Linked DNA regions of Homo sapiens: region 2 is linked to region 1. The links come from fine-mapping of genetic effects on gene expression. Tissue or cell type: whole blood. Region 1 holds a variant in brackets; the other region holds the start of a gene. All regions are shown on one strand. Distances are between the middles of the regions.

Region 1 (5,199 bases):
GGCCAGCTGCCTGCCACCGGTGCCCGGGACGAGCATATCCCCTGAAGCTGGAGAATGGTGTCCACCTTTGCATGGCAGCTTCTCCCAAGGCATTGGCTAAAATATTGCACTTGTAAATCAGGAAAACTGATGAGGCAAGGGTTTCCTATTACAGGACGACGTGCCAAGCATCCAACTACTATTTAAATAAATAAAACTCAAAGTGGGGGTCTGAGCTGCAAGCTCCAATGGCCCTCTAGGAGGGCCCGAGAGCCCAGGCCTGGACCTCCTGCCCCATCAGCCAGTTCTTTAAGGAACTTGGTCAACGCGAAGCCTCCGCGGTCTCCGCAGCAGGGAGCAGCAGCTCCAGATCTGGCTTGGCCAGGGCCCCTGACCTGCCAGGGTCTTGGGCCCCCTCGTACCGGGGCAGTGGGGACCCCACGGGGCCCATCCTTCTACTCCTCCAGTAGCCTGGGCCTCTCTTGGTCCAGGCCTCGCTTCCGTATGTCTATCCGTCTGTCCAGAGACACAGCCTCTGGGGGCTTGCTTGCCCCCTCCGTCACAGGGGGCAGGGAGGCAGGTGGGCAGGGGACCCAGCCCGCCTGGTGTGAACGCTGAGCTCGACTCCAGTGGCCCCTAAAGCGGGGGACTCATCTTCTTCTGGTTAATAAGGTCCAGGTAGAGGTCAGAACGGAGAAAGCGAGGGTACGAGTCCTTTTCCATGAGCCCGAAGATGCGCTTCTGTGCCAGGTCGAAGCAGCCCCGCGTGACGCTCTGCAGGTTGTCCTTGGTGTGCTCCCGCGTGTAGGAGTCCAGGTTGACCTGGGGAGGCAGAGGGGGACATGGTCAGGGCTGCCTGCTGGGGACTGACCCTAGGGCCCATGTGCCTGGAAGGGACCCATCCAGCCTCTCACCTCCAAGCCCCTTTGCCCCACATCTTAAGGTTCATCTGAAGTAGAGACCCTCAGACCAGAGGATTCAAGTCCTGGCTCAGTCATTTCCTGTAGGGCTGGCAGCATTTATAAGGCTGAAAATACCACCCTGAGGGTTAGGCTTCCTGGGTTCAAATCCTAGCAGTGCCACACCTGGGTGTGTGACTTGAAGCAAATTACTTAAGTGCGGTGAGCTTCAGTTGTCTTATCTACCAGCTAGGAATAATAGTACATTCCTCAAAGCGTGAAAACCAAGCAAGATCATCCATATAATGTGCTTTGCGCATAGTGCCTGGCACACAGTAGGCACTCAATAGATGGGAGCAATTATGATTTGTCTCTGTCACTCAGGCTGGAGTGCAGTGGTGCGATCTCGGCTCACTGCAACCTCCGCCTCCCGGGTTCAAGCGATTATCCTGCCTCAGCCTCCCGAGTAGCTGGGACCACAGGCGCCCATCACCACACCTGGCTAATTTTGTAATTTTAGTAGAGATGGGGTTTCGCCCTGTTGGCCAGGCTGGTCTCGAACTCCTGACCTCAAGTGATCCGCCTGGCTCGGCTTCCCAAAGTGCTGGGATTACAGGCATGAGCCACTGTGCCCAGCCTGTCTCTTCGTTTCACAGGTTGTTGTGTGGATTAAACATGAGAACGCATACATAAAGGGCTCAGCACATGCCTGGCATGCGGCAGTGCCTTGGTGGTGGCCATTTTTATTACTAACTGGGATTCTGTTCTTCCCCTGATCCTAGCTTGCATCTTCCCTGCTGGGTACCTGGGCTCATGGAGTCATTCTGGCCTCTCCCCTTCCTGTGCTGCTGGCTGCCACCTTGCAGCTGAAGGGCCACTGGGCCCTGGGGATTGGAGGAGCGGAGGGTCTGCCCTGAGGTCCTACCTCCTTGCATGCCTGGATCGCGATGTATTCAGCAAAGATCTTCTTGGCCTTGGATGCCATCTTGGACTGTGACTTGACCTTCTTGAAGTCCTCACAAGCCAACCAGAACTCCAGATTCTCCTCACTGAACTCAGTGCGAAGGAAGGCTTGGAACACTGCTAACCCGTCTGTGAGGAGAACGGATCCTGGGGTAAGAGGCAAACTCAGCCTCTCCTGCCCTTAAGATGCCTCAGCTTACCCCTACAGGACTTTAAAGATGGGCGTGCTGGGAGCTGAGTACAATGCCCGTCCCCGACAGCCAGGAGCCCTGGGATGTGGCCCCAGCCCTGCCACTGCCTCTTTCAGGGTCTCAGTGGGGTCTCCCC[C/T]TCTCTATGCCTCAGTGTCTTCATCTGTGAAATGGGGACTATCGATTCTGTCTCCCGGAGCCCTGGGAGGAGCCGATGGGACCCTGCCCATGAGATGGCAGGCACATTTGGCGCCGTGAAAGCCCTCAGTACGTAGAAATGTTTATTCTTATTCTGGGAATATGGATCTGAGCACACAGGTCCCACGGGCCTCCGGCAGGCAGTGCCAGCTCACATGGACGGGGAGGGGCTGGCAGAAGCTGGCTCCAAGGCCAGACCAAGGGCCTCAGCTTGGGCTCAGCCCCTCCGCAACAGCAAGGACACCCTGACGGCCGAGGAGAGGGAAGGCGGCCTCTCTAGCACCAGCTACACAGGGTCTGGATGGGGGCGAAGGGGAGAGGGAGAGAGGGCACAGGGAGTGGGCAGGCAGGCCCAACTTACATTTGTGAACCAGCAGCTTCTCCAAGGACTCGCCCCACTTGAGGGCTTCCTCTGAGGTGGGCCTGAGGGGTGAGGGAGGAAACACAGTGAGGGCACTGAGAGGCTTGGGAACCTTGGGGGAAGCTGGGCCAGGCGGCCTTTGTTTACTGCCCTGGGCCCAGTCTGCAGCTGAGCCCAGCTGGGGCGCCCAGGAAGGAGGCCCACCCTCTTTCCCGGGGCCAGGGTCCCTTCCAGCCCCCATCTCCACCCCACCTAGCCTTCCCCCTAGGGCAGCTGCTCCCTGTGAGGGTAGCTGCTTGCCAGGTACCCAGCTCCCTCTGTGAAAGCCTGTCTCCCCCAGAGCTGGATCAAGCCGGCAAGCCCCTTCCCCTCAACCCTACCACTCAGTCCTACTCCCCGGGGAGCCAGTGAGTTCCCCAAAGGGTCCCAGGGTGCCAGGGAGGACCTACTTGAATGACTTCATCATTTTGTCTGCCTTGCCCGCGGGAGGGGCTCCAGGGGACTCATTCCGCCGTCTGAAGATCCCCAGCTTGTTCTTCATGTCCTTGGCTCTGGGGACAGAAGCAGAAAAGAGGGTTGCTCAGCCTGGCCCACTCGCCCCTGCAAATCCAGAGTCGGGAGAGCTGGGTCGAGGGCACCTACTCCTTCATCGTGTGTCGCCTCTGCAGGTTCCCGTTGCGAGTGAGGTACATGCCTCGGAGCATCTCTGTAGGGCCCCCCACCTTGGGGCCGCAGATTGGTCTGTAGGAGGCACCACTCTGGCTCCTGTCCCCCACCCCGCGTCCTGGGCAGCGGGCAGCAACGGTGCAGGCTGCAGCCACACACGCTCTCTGGAATCCTGGCCTGATGACTGGACTCCCAGGCACAAGCCGGGGCTGGGACTCAGACAGGAGGAGCCAGGAAATGGGAGGGACCAGGAGGGGGAGCGGAAAAAAAAATTCCTTCTGGCCAACCCTGAGAGGGAGCCGTGAAAGGGGCATGTGTCTGCAAGGGACAGCCTCTGGGGCCGCCCCGGCAGGAAGCCAGTCCCAGCTATTTGTGACTGGCCTCCTCGTTACCATGGCAGCAGGGAGACAGTGGTGGGGGGTGGGGGACAAGTCAGCAAATTGCTGAAAGGGAAGGAGGGAGCCAGGGGAGGCACTGCCCACCACCGGGGTGGCAGGACTGGCTATTTTTAGCCAAGAACCATTTTTAGCCTTGCCGGTCCCCAAGGAGGCAGCAGAATTCAGCACTGGGTGAAACTGCTGGCAAGAAAGGAGTTAAATGCCTCTTGCTCATGTTCGCCCCTCTTTTCCCTAGACCCCCTGTACAGGGCACCTCCCAGAGAATGGCTCCTGCCAGCCGGCCTCTCAGCCTCAGTCACCTGCATTGGCGACATCCAGTCATGAATATACAGCAGGACCCCAACATCTTAGTAGTTTTAAGCCTGAATAACTTCAGAAGTACAAGTCCTATAAACTTACAAAAACACCATTTTAAAGTTTAATTATTTAATGTTGTGTGCATGGTTTTGTGATTTTCGAATAATAAATGTTTCACTTTAAGTTTTGGTCTCCATCCTCCCAAAGATGGAAAATGCTGACTCAAACCAAAAATGAAAATGAAAAATTGATTATTCAAAAATCACATAACTAAAGACGTGCAAAAGAAATTTAATAATTAAACTTTCAAGGGGGTTTGGTAAGTTTGAAGCATTTATACTTCTGATGCTATTCAAGCTTAAAATGGCACTAAGACCTAGACACCCTGTCTAATGAAGGAGAGTCCTGCAGGGGAGGCTGATCCCAGGCTCTGGAGCTAGTCTTGGGTTCAAATCCCAGCTCCAGCAGTTACCAGCTGTGTGCCCTTTGACACGTTTCCTGATCTCTCAAGTTTCCTATCAAGGTTTTTTCTCTGTCAAGCTGTTTCCTCAAACAGAAGCCAGCAGGCCAGGTCTCCAGGTCCCAACCCCACCACTTTCTTGCCATGTAACTTAGCCTCTTTGCACAGTAGTTTATTCACGTGTAAAATAAGGGTAAGGTCAATAAGAAAGAACAGAACGGAAAATAAAAGTAGTGGTAAAGATTAAATTAGATTACATATGAAATACACACAGAACAGTGCGGGGCATAATAAACATTAATGGTTATTCTTATTATTACCGTAGATGTTCTAAGACTCTTCGTCTAAGCTTTTAAGAGTATGACCTTCAGAGGCCAGGCATGGTGGCTCATGTCTGTAATCCCAGCACTTTGGGAGGCCGAGGCGGGAAGATCACTTGAGGCCAGGAGTTTGAGAACAGCCTGGCCAACATGGCAAAACCCCCATCTCTACTAAAAGTACAAAAAAAATTTGCTGGGTGTGATGGCACACACCTGTAATCGCAGCTACTTGGGAGGCTGAGGGACAAGAACTGCTTGAACTTGGGAGGCGGAGGTTGCAGCAAGCCAAGATCGCACTCCAGCCTGGGTGACAGAAGGAGACTCTGTCTCCAAAAAAAAAAAGTGTGGGCTTCAGGCAATTCAAAAGGCAGCACCTACATTGAAAGGAGGCTAGACAGGGCTGCTCCAGCACCCGGGATGCCTGCCCTCTGCGCCACACACTGCTTCCCTACACCTCCCACTTCCAGCAC
Region 2 (5,129 bases), 130 kb after region 1:
TACAATCCTGGAGAAAAATATTATGTATACCTACAATGACTTCAAATTACATCATTTTTCACAATAAAGAAAAAAAAATCCCTCTAGAGTAGTTGGGTCCTAGCCTCAGCTTGCCTACTCCCTTCCCCTGAAGTAAGGCCACCTCCTCAGAACGCAGTGTCCTTCAATTAATGTCACTTGAACATACTCCTTTTGGGGGACAAGGGGTTGTGTTCATGTGTACACACAAATACATATATCATGCAGTACTCTCCCCGAAGGGAATTCTCATCAAAACAGTTTTGTCTCTTTATATTTCCATAGATGATTATGCTCCCTTTACATGTCTGTGCTCAGGAAACTACCAGCTAAGCAACATCTTCATCTGGTTCTACCAAGGCAAAGCTCACAGTAGAAGGCCAGGGGCTACCTACTTTGCTAAGGAAAGGCCAGTGAACTGAGAAAAACTTAGCCAAAACCTTCACAGTAAAAGTGGTCCCAATTGCTACCAAAACTGACTCTGAATCCATAGCTTCCAAACCTGGATGACAGTCTGAACGCTCTATGGCTTCTTAAGTGTTCATATTCTCAGGCTCCACCCCAGACCTATTAAACTAGAGTCTCCAGAAGAAGATTCTAGGAATCTGTGTATTTTTAACAGGCTCCCCACATGCTTCTGATATTTGGCTGGGTTTGGAAACCACTGATAGGAATCTTTGCTCATAAGCAGATCAGTGAAGATCACAGTGGATAAAGAAAATCAGCAGCCTGAAAGAGGGGCACCACGACAAATGGCACCCAGGGAAACAGAGCCAGTGCAGGAAACAGGAGAGAATTTCTCAAATGCTCTCATAAGCATCCTTAGAGAGATGTGAGAGGAGCCTGCACGAATAAGAGCAGGTGGCTTCCCACCCCACCCAGGCTCCTGTCTGCCTCCTGCACACTCAGGTCACAGTCACTTGTTCAAGCAGCAGCCTTCCCTGATACCCATCAGACTCAGCCCTGAGGCCATGGCTGGGCAGGAAGATCCACTCCCTGCTGGGCCTGAACCCTCCTCAGCTTCCCAGATCTGGCAGGCAGATTAATCTAATAGAAGAACATGGACCAATGCAAGGAAATATTCACATCAGGCCACTAAGGAAAACATATGGGTTACAAAATTGTCCATACAAACTTGATCTCAATTGTGTTGAAATTTGACCCCTAAATACACACAGGCACACACACACACACACACACACACACACACACACACACACAGAAATAGGTGTGGAAATAAGCCTGGGAGGATATAAATCAGAAAGTTAACAGTGGTCTCCCTGGGAAGTCAGATTACAAGTGATTTTCACTTTCTTCTTTTCACTAAGTTTTCAGCAGTAAACACATGTAACCATGATAATAAGGAGGAAAAAAGCAAACATATTTTTACTTTTTAATCAGGACACAGCTAAGGTAAGAGGGCCTCACAGCTCCCTGACACCCTTTCCTGATCACTCCTACCCCAGCCAATACAGATCATCCTGGAAACCACCCTTGTCTCACAGAGCCCTGCATCCCAATGGGGTTAGCAGGAATTGCCTCCTACGCTGGGGCATTAAGTGAGATAATGCAGGTAAAACACTTGGCATAAGGAATGGCAATGGTAAGTTCTCAACAAATGATGGCTAGTTAATTGCCCTTTATCGTCCACCAACTAGACCAGTGAATTCCTGCTGCCAGACGTCAGGCAATTTCAGAGGCCAAGCCACTGCTCTTCCATCATTCCCTCTACCCCTAAGGAAAAAAAGCAGGTTGTGGAAAACCAAATATGTTGAGCAGGAGTAAGCCTGAAAACAGAAGAGCCAGGAACCCCAGGGAGGGACCAAACTCCTTGGGCACTCTGTCTTTGAAAGCTGGGCAATGTCCAGTAATGTTTCAGTAACAGCCCCAACCTTTAGAAGGAAATTGTATGCAAGTTCAAACAAAAATGCGCTGGACAGGTCATCTCTGGAAAGCTTGAGCTCAGCTACGAACTCTGCCACTGGCTCATGGAAGATCTCTTGGTTTCAAGTCTTCACAGAGGAAAAATAACCCCTCTCCACAGAGAGTTGCAGGACCAGTGAGGAAATGAAGGGTTACCCTCAAGGGTAGGGTTGTTACCTTTACTATGGCTACCAGGAAGGCCAGGTTTGCCCAGACCTTTGGGCAGCTGCCGCCCAGCTGTTATTTGGGGGAACTCAGTCTGCTACTTAGGGGCTTGGGAGTGAAGCCTACTGTTCACTTCTTTCCACCTCAAACCCTGAGGCAGCCCTGGGACCCTCCTAAGGGATTGTTCTTTCTTGGAGGAGAGAATTCTCCCATCTCCACTGTGGCTCAGATACCCAACAAAGTCAAATTGCAGCCTCCCCACAAGGCAGCAGGGCCAAAGGGCCCAGCACCTGTCCGCTCCCTGAGCCAAAGGAAAGTGGGTGAATGAGATCTCCAGTTGCTATAACAAGACCTTGATTTAACCTGAGCTGCTTGCTAATGAGAAACTCCGTGGTGACAACCCAGGTCTCTGAAAGATTAACCAGAGCGTGATTATTCCAGCCAAGTGAGGCAGAACCAACCGCAGTTGGCACTCATGGCCGGGCAGCAGGTGGTGTCCAGCAGCTTGCTTGGACTGAGCCTGTGCCCTGAGCCCCTCCTGGGCAGTCACAGGAGAAAGGGGCCAGAGAAGGTGCCCCTAGATAGAAAGAGCACCTGCTCCCAGCCTCCCCTGTCACCACGAGGGGCTGCGTTTCTGGGCGCTGGGAGCAGGGTGAAGCAGCCCCTGCCGCCAGCCCCAGCGGGCACTTACCAAAGGTGGTGAGGTAGAAGGACAAGTCCGGGTGGGCACGCCGGCTCCCGAGGGAGACGCGGTGCAGGGAGCGCTCCATGGCGTCCCACTGCGACCCGGACAGGAGCGTCTGCAACCCGAGGCGGCTGTGTTGCTCCCCAGTAACCGGAGTCTCCAGGGCGGGAGGAGCGCGAGCGGGAGGTAGGGCTGCCCCAAGCGTTGGAACGGCCAGGGCGCGCCCGGCCCTGATTGGCCCGCGCGGGTTTGAATGGGGAGAGTTCCACCTGCCGGAGCAGAGCTGGGCCGGGGTGGGGGAGGCGGCGCCGCCGACCCGCGCTGAGCAGCGACGGCAGCCACCCAAGGAGCCAGCAGGACGGTGCGGCCACCCCGGGTATCCCGGCCCCAGCACCGCGCTCCCGGTTGGAAATGCCAGTCCCACGAGAAGGCCCAGTCCGGGGTGCCCACTCTGGGCAGGCTTGGCCTCCTCGTCCAGCTCTCCTAGACCAGCAATTAGTCGGGTTTATAACCTGCTTTGAAGCTCAGGCCTATAATCATTAGATCCAAGCAAAGGCAAAGGAGCACCCGATGGCCCAGGGCAGTGAGGTTTGGAAAAGTGTTCTCTGCGCTTGGACAGGTCGCCCCCCACCATGCTGCATCCTCTTCCCAAACCCTGCATCCTGGATCACTCTCTTGAGCCTCCTCTTGAACAAGTGCTGCCTGACACAGGTCCGGATGGGAGCAGCTTGCTCCAACCAACCTGATGGCCCCCCGTCCCACAGCCTGATGCCATCGGACAGCAGGACAGGCCCACAGCCTCTGAGAAAGAGGAACGCACAGGAAACGGAGTGGGGTGGGTGAATCCCCCAGCCTGGTGCGGGGAGGCAGAGCTGGAAGGTCAAACCCTGCTTTGCTGCTTTGTCAGCAAACATTTACAGGACACCTCCTCGTAGCAGTTTCACACCAAGACATCTGCTCTGCAAATCTCTGTTGCCACTGTGGGAAGGAAAGCTGTTAGTCTCGTGTAAATCTAAAAATGGGAAGTGTTGGTATTTGTCCCTGTTCCCCAGACTTCATCGCCAAGTGGATATTTGTGGTTCAGTGATCCACTCAAAAACAAGATGGGGAGATGCAAGACAGAAAGTGGAGAGAAGAGTTATGTGTTGAGTACCAGATGCCAGAGGCTGAGCTGAGCTGGGCAATTTACACACATCATCTCAGTTAATCTTCACGGTAAGTCTAATAAGTATTAGCCCCAATTTACCAGGAAGAAATCTGAACCTCAGGCAGAGAAGACAGGTGACATGCCCAAGGTTTGCAGAGCTAGGAATAGGCAGAGCTGAAATTTGAACCCAGGCCTGTCTGCCCCAAACGCCATTGTCCTATTCTTCCTTGGCCTCCACATCTGCCCCATGGCCAACAGCAGGTGGAAGGAGCAAACGCCACAGGGTCAGGTGGCCACCAGCGAGGAGCAGAAACTGCAGAAGGAGCCCTGAATCAGCAAACTGGTGATAAATCACATAAATGCCGTAGGATTGTTTGAATCCTGGCACTTCGTGAAGTCCTGCCCTGCTCTTTACTGCACCCCCCCACCCCACCCCACTCTCCCCCTCCAACCCCGGTTACACACACACATGGTGAACACTGCCTTTAACAAGAGCAGGTCCACTCTCCTAGCCTCAAGCCAGTGACAGATGGACTTACCTGCACCCTGGACTTTGGCATGCGTGATCCTCTTCCTGGCTGGAGAAGTTTGAGTCCACTCATCTCTTCTGGGCAGAGCGATATCAGGGCTTAGCCACTCCATCCAGCCAGGGAATATGGGCAAGCTCAGGCTCAAGCCACAGGATGTAGAGAGGACACTGAGCACAGAGACGTGGCAGACCTGCAGGAGCAAGATGGGAGCATGAGTTAGCCATGGCCTGAAGATGCTCCATGCAAGGTGTGTTCACTCCCAGTAGGAACTAGAAAGCATGGTGTTCAGGAAACAGCAAAGGAAGGCCCACAGGGAAAAGGGAAGGTGATGTGCCTGAGATGATAGTCACCTCTTCACAACTTCGCCAGGGACCACTGTAGAGCCTCCTCCCAAAGGGGAGACTATCTTGGGCTCCAGAGGCTGTGAGCAACCTGCAGGTACAACACTCAGGACGGTGAGATCCAGAAAGAAAATTGGGCAAAGGTGTGCTGTCTGAATGTGACCTAGGAGAGAAAAGACCGAGGCCCACACTGGGCACTTACACCCGGTAATGGGAACAAAGATTCTACTGCTTTGTAGGTCCCCTCCTGACTCCTGCCCCACTCTGCAGCTAACATATTCAGTTGGAAGATTGCAAGGCCAGCCTGATCCTGAGCTGGC

Evidence for each region. PIP is the estimated chance that this variant, and not a neighbour inherited with it, causes the effect.
Region 2: RGS3 starts here. The variant in region 1 is fine-mapped to the expression of RGS3 in whole blood (TOPMed, PIP above 0.99).

Annotation. Positions count from the first base shown.
Region 1 is chr9:113,592,370-113,597,568 of GRCh38, reverse strand. It overlaps RGS3 (regulator of G protein signaling 3), which reads right to left. Exons shown (of 23, transcript NM_001394167.1): 20 at 3,038-3,139; 21 at 2,589-2,650; 22 at 1,804-1,970; 23 at 1-801. The coding sequence ends at 616. Among named protein-coding and RNA genes, the nearest start is that of RGS3, 130 kb to the right of the region's middle. The variant C/T (reference allele first, on the strand shown) is at 2,169.
Region 2 is chr9:113,461,550-113,466,678 of GRCh38, reverse strand. RGS3 (regulator of G protein signaling 3) reads right to left here and starts at 2,952. Exons shown (of 23, transcript NM_001394167.1): 1 at 2,798-2,952. The coding sequence starts at 2,876. RefSeq lists enhancers at 2,140-3,094, 3,095-4,049.